2 separate regions of the Homo sapiens genome follow, and region 1 is linked to region 2. Evidence: fine-mapped expression QTL. A gene starts in region 2. The other region holds a variant in brackets. All regions are shown on one strand. Distances are from middle to middle. Region 1 has its middle 37 kb from the start of SOX8. Region 2 holds the start of SOX8 (SRY-box transcription factor 8).

Region 1 (4,378 bases), 37 kb before region 2:
CCTCAGGCCCCTGAGCCTGCCTGGTCCTCCCCTCCCACCCGCCCTGAGAGCAACACGCACTCACACCCCTCCCTGTGCACCAGGACCGCACAGAGCTGCCAGGGAGCTGCAGATGCCCCCAGAGAATCGTCCTTGTGCCCGGTAGCACCCAAAGGGTTTGTTATTCTGGGGCCCGAGGGCACAGCCAGAACGGGTCCTGCAGGTGGAGAGGGGCTGCGGGAATGCGTTTTTCTGGGAGGGGTCTGCTGGCTCCTGGGACACTGGGAAGCCAGCTACTGCCCCAGAGGTGGCCTGGAGGGACCTTCTGCAGACAGCTGCCCTGCCCCCCCTCTGGCTGTGCCCTGCAGAACCCAGAAGGGGTAGCTTACAAGGCGTGGAGTCAGCTCCACTGCAGCCAGTGGTCCTCACATATCTGGCCAACAGGCGAACCCACAGGGCTGTCACCTCTGCTACCTGAGGGCCCGACGGGGAGTTCTCGACCGTGTCCCGGCCAAACCCAGCGCCTCCAGACACCAGCAAAACAGCCACATGCACCCCGCGCTATCAGCCACATGCCTCATGCATCTGACCCCAACAGACCACGCCTGTAGAGCTTGGGGAGAGGCTTCAGCGATCATTGCAGCAGGAAGCCGGCCAGAGAGGCGGCCCGATAGAAAGTCACGGCTGCCAGACACTCAAAGGCACTTCGAAAGAGAAAGTCAACGGGACAGGTCCCAGGCATATTTAGGAGCCGCAAAGCCCAGCTGCGAAGTGGGGTCCCCGTGCGCGAGGCCTGCAGGCGCCTGCGCCCTCCGCTGCCTTCCCTCAGGGCTCTGATGGGTTTGCCATTTCCTAGCACGTGGACGGGAAAGGGCCCGTGGGCTGGGGGTGACCGGACGGCGGGGGGTCAGGACAGCGCCTGTGGGGGTGGCCTTCCGGCTCGACTCAGCCGAGACGCCAGCGCAGGGCCAGGGCCGGGGCTGCTGCCGGCCGGACACCCGTGCTGTACGGCGCTCCTCGCCCCGGGGCTTCATCTGCCCTTGCCGGAGCCTTCCCGGCTCGCTGGTTTGTGGCCGGCTTAATCCCACACTAATTAGATTTCTGCGCTGGTGATGAAAGGGCTCCGTGCGTGCCAGCCTGCTGGCCGGCCCAGCCCACTGCTTGTTTTGCACAGAATTTTAATTGTTTCCAAATTAATCCTCAGAATCGAGTGAGCTCAGCGCAGATAAGCCAGCTGCAGGGAGGGCAGAGTGCCGCGTTCCCATCTTCCCAGCCAGCGCGGCCGCCGCTCCCGTGGGGTGGCACGGGGAGGCCGCCTTCGGACATGACGCGATCGCCCAGCAATGTCCTGTGCCTCTTCCCGCTCAGCGGCTCCGAGAGCCCCGCCAGGCGCCCGGCTCTCGGGGAGTTTTCCTTCTGTTTGCTCTTGGCTCAGCTTCCCTCTTAATCCTATTTTCGCCAGTTTCTATCCAATTTAAGACAGCTCCTGTAAGTCAAAATTAATTACCCCGTGGGCTTCCAGCCCTGTGGTCTCGCTGCTCACTGTTCCTGCAACCTGGGGCTGGGCTCCAAAAGGAGGAGGGGAACACACCCCCAATGTGAGGGGGGCTGGGGGCCCCACCCCCGAACCAGACTGAATGTGGGGCGAGGTCCCCACCCCACATTTCAAAGGACCAGGCTCCTCCATCAGGAAGTCCTCCCTGACTGCCTCAATCTTCCTGAGCTCCCCTGACACCTAACGCTGGGCACACTCTTCCCACCACACCTGTGCCTGCCCATGCCCACATCCACGCATGTGTGTCTGCACCCACCCAGCTCACCAAGGGCCTGGGCTCCATCCACGCATGTGTGTCTGCACTCACCCAGCTCACCAAGGGCCTGGGCTCCATCCACACATGTGTGTCTGCACCCACCCAGCTCACCAAGGGCCTGGGATCCATACCAAATGTGTTCAGCCACATAGAAATGAATAAAGGCCAGGCACAGTGGCTCACACCGGTAATCCCAGCACATTGGGAGGCCAAGGCACGGTTGTTTGAGCCCAGGAGTTTGAGACCAACCTGGGCAACATAGCGAGACCCCATCACTACAAGAAATACAAACATTAGCCGGGTGTGGTGGCGTGCACCTGGAGCCCTGACTACCCAGGTGGCTGGGGCAGGAGGATGGCTGAGCCCAGGGAG[G/A]TTGGGGCTGCAGAGAGCGGTGATGACGCCACCGCACTCTAGCTGGGGGAGTGACAAAGGGAGACCCTGTCTCAAAAAAAGAAAATAAATAAGGACACCAAAAGCAACAAAAGGCACACAAAATGTAGAGAGATATTTGAAGTTAAAGACTTTTTGTGTCTCACAGGCCACCATCGAGAAAGTAAAAAGACAACCCACCAAATGGGGGGAATATTTGCAAGTCATTTATCTGATAAGGGGATATATAATATCCATAATACATCAAGAGCCCTTACAAGTCAACAATAAAGGCCGGTTGCGGTGGCTCACACCTGTCATCCCAGCTCTTTGGGAGGCCGAGGCTGGTGGATCACCTGAGGTCAGGAGTTTGAGACCAGCCCGGCCAACGTGGCGAAACCCCATCTGTACTAAAAATATAAAAATTAGCCGGGCGTGGCGGCGGGCATCTGTAATCCCAGCTACTCGAGAGGCTGGGGCAGGAGAATTGCTTGAACCAGGTAGGTGGAGGCTGCAGTGAGCTGAGATGGTGCCATTGCACTCCAGCCTGGGCAACAAGAGCGAAACTCTGTCTCAAAAAAAGAAAAAAGGAAAAAAGAAAAAAAATAAAATAAAAAGACAAATCACCTAATTTAAAATAGCAAAGGATCGAAACAGACATTTCTCAAAGAAGATACACCTGTGGCCAACAAGCACGTGAAAAGATGCTCCGTGTCACCAGCCACCCGGGAAACCCAAATCAAAGCCACGATGAGAGGCCACCTCACACCCATGAGGATGCTTATGTCAGGAAAACCAGGCTGTAGGTGTTGGTGAGGATGCGGAGAAACAAGTCTTCACGCACTGCTGGCAGGAATGGAGAATGAGGCAGCCAGTTTGGAAAACAATTTAATGGTTCCTCAAAAGTCGGAACCTAGAATTAGCACATGACCTGGCAATTCCGTTCCTAGCCATCTACCCAAGATAACTGAAAATATATGTCCACACACACATTTGTATATGGATGTTCATAGTACTATTCACAATAGCCAAAAAAAAAAAAAAAATGAAAGCCACCCAAACATCCACTAACAATTGAATGGATAGATGGGGGACAGTTCACCCACGCAGCGGAACACTAGCCTCACAGAGGAAAGAGATTCTGACCCTTGCTACCGGATGGATGAACCTTAAAAACATGAGTTCAGTGGGAGAAGCCAGACACAAAAGGCCCCGCATCGTGTGATCCCATTTATGTGAAATGTCTTGAATAGGCAAACCTGCAGCGACAGAAAACAGATTGGTGTTTGTCTAGGGCTGAGGGAATCAGGAGTGGGAGGATCCGGAAATACTGATGTCTAAAGGTTGAGTGATTTCTTTCTTTGTTTTTATTTTTTATGATTTTTTTTTTATTTTGAGACGGAGTCTCGCTCTGTCGCCCAGGCTGGAGTGCAGTGGCGCAATCTCGGCTCACTGCAAGCTCCGCCTCCCGGGTTCACTCCATTCTCCTGCCTCAGCCTCCCCAGTAGCTGGGACTACAGGCACCCGCCACCACGCCCAGCTAATTTTTTGTGTGTTTTTAGTAGAGACGGGGTTTCACTGCGTTAGCCAGGATGGTCTCATGATCCGCCCGCCTCGGCCTCCCAAAGTGCTGGGATAACAGGCGTGAGTCACCGTGCCTGGCCAAGGTTAGGTGATTTCTTTTGGGAGGTGATAAAATGTTCTAAAACGGATCATGCTTAGTTCGCACCACATGCTGGCATCCAAACATCTCATGTGCCCCATAAATATATATACCTACTGTGTATCCACAAAAATTAAAAATGAAATAAAATCGATGGTGATAATGGTTACACAATTCCAGCACATTTAGTGGGCGTGCTAAAATCATTGAGCCGTCCATTTTAAAATGGTGACTCTTATGTGAATTATGTCTGAGAAATAAAATTATGAAAAAATTAATAAAGAGCAAACAAGGAAAGAAAAAAAATGCCAAAGAAACTACAAAGTTCAGAGAGTGCCCAGAACCCTAAAGAGGCAGCCAGTGCCAGGGTGGGTCACACTCCACACAGAGCTTCCCGGCGGGCAAAGCAAAGATGGAAACACCCGCAGTATGGGGGGCTGTGGGGTACCATTTGTGGACGATTCACTCCGCTGAGTGTGCCCAGGTGTTTGTCAGGTGTCAACTTGGCTAATCCCAACAAGGTCCGGGCAGGAGGAGGGCTATGTAGATGGGGAAA
Region 2 (4,378 bases):
GCTCTCGCTCAGCAAGCTGCAGCACAGGGCAGAGGCAGGGATGGCCAGGGCGCCCACTGTGCCCTCGGCGCAGGCACACACCACAGGGGGAACCGGCAGCAGAGGCCGGGGCCAGGAGGCTCTGACCAGGGAAACCCGCCTGCCGTGCGCTCCGGAGCCTCCCGTGGCACCAGGCAGTACACTCCTCTGGGAGAACCGGCCGGCGCCTGTTTGGGAAGGTTGGTATGCTTACGACAGCCAAAGAAGAACAAGCCCCACGCCTCCCATCTTCCTCCTTCTATTTCCCCCTATTCCGGGCCTGCTGTTCCCTCCCTCTGGGGCTTTCTAAGGGAGGCGGGGGAGGCGGGCAGGACCCAGCCGGCGGTGGACAAAAGCGAGGCTTCCCGGGAACGGTGCCGGCCTTCGGCGGGCAGCTGGGCTGCTGTCCCTCCATTCCCAGACACCCAGAAGCCCTGGCAGGGCCCAGGCGCCCGTCCTCACTGAGCCACAGGACACACTCCTTGGGACTCTTCCCGAGGCTCACCTCCAACCGCCTGTGCGGCAGGACTTGGGGGAGCAGGGGCCTGCCGTCCACAGCGCCCCGTGGCTGCGCCCTAGATCCAGACAGAAGGCAGGAGGTGCAAATACGCAAGCTCCAAGCTCCCTTCTTCCAGGTGAGGAGCAGGATACGGGAACCAGAGCCCCAAACCAAGAGAACCATTTGAAACCCAACCAGAGGACACTCGGTGGGGGCGGCCTGTCCTGAGCAACAAGTTCTTCACTCTGCAGTCCTAATTTCTGGAAAACTGACCGGCCCCACCACGCCAAGGCGTGCACACGGCGCACCCCGTCATCTCCACTCCTGCCCTCCCTGCTTCGGACCGAGGGTGTCCAGGAGAGGGAGAAACTGCGGGGAGGGTACTCGCAGGCAAACCTGCTGCCCACCCATCCGCCTGCCGCACTCCCTCCCCATGGGTGGTCCAGGAGCTAGAGGAGCTGAGCCCTTTCTAAGGAGGGAGCACCTCCAGAGAGCCGCATGCAACTTGCTGTCGTGCCGGGCGTGCCTCCCGGGGCTGGGGCCACTCGCAACGGCTGGAGGGCACGTCGGGGTGCCAGCCATGGCCCTCCGCAGGGTGTTCCCCGCCAGGAGAACTGGCTCCAGAGCGCACCCGCCACGAGGGTGCACACCCCAGGCGCTGCCCTCCGCGGATCCCGACTCCCATAGCTGGCGCCGGACCCCGGCTGGCCAGAGGATGTTTTTCCACTGGGACCCGCCCTGACACCCGCCCGGGGTGCAGAGCCCGGAGCCTGCGTGTGGCCACCACCTCCGCGAGCTCTGCGCCCTCCAGGCCCCCGCTCGCAGTCCGAGACCAGGGGCGGCCAAGGTCCCGAACCCCGCCCCCGGGGCGCCGGCACTCACCGCCACAGCTTGCCCAGCGTCTTGCTGAGCTCGGCGTTGTGCAGGTGCGGGTACTGGTCGGCCAGCTTGCGGCGCGCCGCCTGCGCCCACACCATGAATGCGTTCATGGGCCGCTTCACATGCGGCTTGGCTTTGAGCGCGCCGCCGCCGCCGCCGCGCACCGGCATGGGCACCAGACTCCAGTCGTAGCCCTTGAGCACCTGCGACACGGCGTCGCGGATGCAGGCCGGGAAGCGCTCGTCCGCCGCCTCCGCCGGGTCGCCCCGGGCGCCCCCCACCGCGACCCCCGCGCGGCCCAGGCCCTCGGAGCCGGCGGGAGACGGCGGCGCGTCCGAGTCCGAGTCCTCCACGTGCGACATGGAGCTGGCGGTGCCGGACGGGCTGCAGGGCGGCTGGGAGCGGGCCTCGCTCATGTCCAGCATCGGGGCCGCGCGCGGAGGGGCGCGCACAGGAGACGCGCACCGGGGCCGGCGCCCGGGGCTGCCCTGCGGTCGCTCCGGGACCCGAGGTCGCCGCGCGGTGGCCCCGACCCTCGCCCCTGCCGCCGCCGCCGCCGCCGCCGAGGCTCGGGTCCCGCTGCGGGACCCGCAACAAGTTTCTTTAAGCGGCGGCCCCGCGGCCCCGCCCCGCGCCCGGCTACCCATTGGCGGAGCGCGCCCCGATCCCCCGGAGGCGGAGCCCGGCCGCCCCCGCCCCCCCACCCATAAAGAAAGCTCCGCGGCTCTCGCCGCGCCCCCGCCTGCCCCGCCCGGCGCCGCACCACGTGGGCCAGGCGCCCCACGCCTGGAGCTCCCCTCTCTGGAGCCCCGGGAAAGGAAGCGGGGCAGGGAGGCCGGGTGGGAGCAGGGGGGTCTCCGGCGCTTCCTCTCCTCTGCGGGCGCCGCGCGGCTCCTGAGAGTCCGCCCCCCGTCCTGACGCTCAGCTAGGAAGCGGGTCCTCGGGCCCCTCCCCCGACACACACACACACACACACACACACACACACACACACACACACTCTCTCTCTCTCTCTCTCTCTCTCTCTCTCTCTCTCTCTCTCTCACACACACACACACACACACAGCCCGTCTCGCGCCTGAGGTCTCGCCCGCAGGCCGGTGGCGCGGGGTCAGCTGCTGCCTGCGGTCCAGGACAGGGTCGGTTCCGCCGCGCAGCGCCCAGGCCCAGCTCGTCCAGAGTCTGCGGACAGCGCACGTCCAGGTAACGCGCTTCAAGGGGCCGCGGCTCGGAGCTGGGGGACCCCGGGCCGCCCTGCCCATACGAGTGCGAGCGTGGAGAGCGCGGGCGGGGGCGCGGTCCCGGGGGCCGGCCAGCTGGAGGGGGCGGGAGCGCTGGGCGGGGCCTGCGCTGACCCCGGCGCTGAGTCCCTGGGGCCGCCGGGCGGATGGCGTGGCCGGACGCGGGGGCCCCGGGCCTTCCGGGCGTGACCTAGGGCTCGGGGGCGGGGAGGCCCCTCCGGCGGGGCGGCCCTGGGTGGTCCGGCAGAGGCGGAGGCCGCTCCGAGCCTGTGAGCCCTGGGCGCCTGCGGAGGCGGGGAGAGGGCGGGGTGTGCCGCCCTGGTGGGGACCGCGGGGTCGGAGAGGGGACATTGCCCCCCCCGAGGCGAACGTCCAACCGCGGGTCCGGGTCCCCGCCCAAGGCCGCCCCGCGAGGTGGCCTCGGCCCGGCCGTCCCCGAGGGTGGCTCGGATCCTTTCAACCAGCGCGCTGGAGGCGAAGGGGCTGCGCCATTCCGGGTCAGGCAGCCAACGCGGGACACGCGCGTCTCCGAGCTTGCGGCCCGCGAAACCCGGGTGACCTACCGCGCCGGTGCCCTCAAAGCCCCCACGCCCGGGCCGGTGGCCGCTGCAGCCACTGAGCCACGCGGTCTCCCCGGCCCGGTCGGCAGAAGGAGCTGGTCCGTTACTAGAAAAGTCCAGATGCAAAGTCGGGGGTCGTGCTGCCGCTTCCTGCCAGCGCACCGCACCCACCTGGGGCCGCCACCGACCGCACAGGACGCGCCTCCTACCCCCTGTTCTGGCCCGGCCGAGAGCTGGTGCCCCCAGCGGCCGCCCGCCCCCGTCCGCAGACCCCGGGGCCCTTGCTGCTTTGCATTGGGAACAACCGGAGCCAGGCCCGGAGCTGAGGGGGCCAGGGCCTTTGGAGGAAGCATTGGCCTCCAGGCTGAAGAGCAAGGGCCGTGTCACCTGCCCGGAGGGCGGTCTCATCTCTGCAGCCAGGTCAGAGGAAGCAGCGGTGGGGAGACGGAGTGCGCGAGTTGGGAGGCTCCACGCATCGTAGGTGGAGAGCTGGCTGCCAGCCTGGCCTGCCCTCTCTTCCCCGTCCCACCATCTCGCTTGGCTCCGGCACCTGCCTGGGAAGACCCACACCTCCGTCTGCAGTGCCTCTTCCCCCTGGAGGCCCTGCCCTCCGCTCGGGGTCCCCGCATCCTTCCGTGGCCCTCAGAGCATCGCCTGGGGCGCCCGCGGAACTCATCTGTTAGGCCTGGGATGCAGGCAGGCAGAAGTGGGGGTTTAAGTGGAAGCAGTGAGGGTGGGGGTCCGGTCCAAACTGTGCCACCTTCCACCCCCTGCCCCTGGGAGAGCAGACATCGCCCACTCGGGCTCACAGTGCCATCCGGGTGAGGACCTCCGTGGAGAGCTCTCTTTGCCAAAGAAAAGCAGTTGCATTAGGTCTGCGAGCAGGCAGGGTGGCCTCTTCCTGGCTCCCCATCCACCAAGGAAGCTTCAAGTCCCTGGGACACAGGTGGGGAACTCCAGCACCCCTGGAGGAAGGGAGACTGAGGTTGGGGAGTGGCATCCAGGCCCTGACTCTGGGGCACGGTGGTCTGTGCAACTGAGACCCTGCCTCAGGCTCCAACAGCGCCTGCTCCTTTCCCCAGGTTGCAGTGATCACCAGGGGAGGTGCTGGGCGTGCAGGCTGCCACAGGAGGGGTGGGGAGGTGGGGAGTCTCTGTGGCGGGGTGGTGGGGGCCTAGGCC

What was found. PIP is the estimated chance that this variant, and not a neighbour inherited with it, causes the effect. A credible set is the group of variants that fine-mapping cannot tell apart.
Region 1: its variant is the best candidate, but not a certain one, in a credible set for the expression of SOX8 in whole blood (INTERVAL, PIP 0.61).

The regions. Positions count from the first base shown.
Region 1 is chr16:1,016,299-1,020,676 of GRCh38, reverse strand. No RefSeq gene overlaps it. Among named protein-coding and RNA genes, the nearest start is that of SOX8, 37 kb to the right of the region's middle. The variant G/A (reference allele first, on the strand shown) is at 2,163.
Region 2 is chr16:979,366-983,743 of GRCh38, reverse strand. It overlaps SOX8 (SRY-box transcription factor 8), which reads right to left and starts at 1,974. Exons shown (of 3, transcript NM_014587.5): 1 at 1,400-1,974; 2 at 1-16. The coding sequence starts at 1,821. It overlaps CEROX1 (cytoplasmic endogenous regulator of oxidative phosphorylation 1), which reads left to right and starts at 2,131. Exons shown (of 3, transcript NR_164343.1): 1 at 2,131-4,143. It also overlaps a transcript of LMF1 not described here.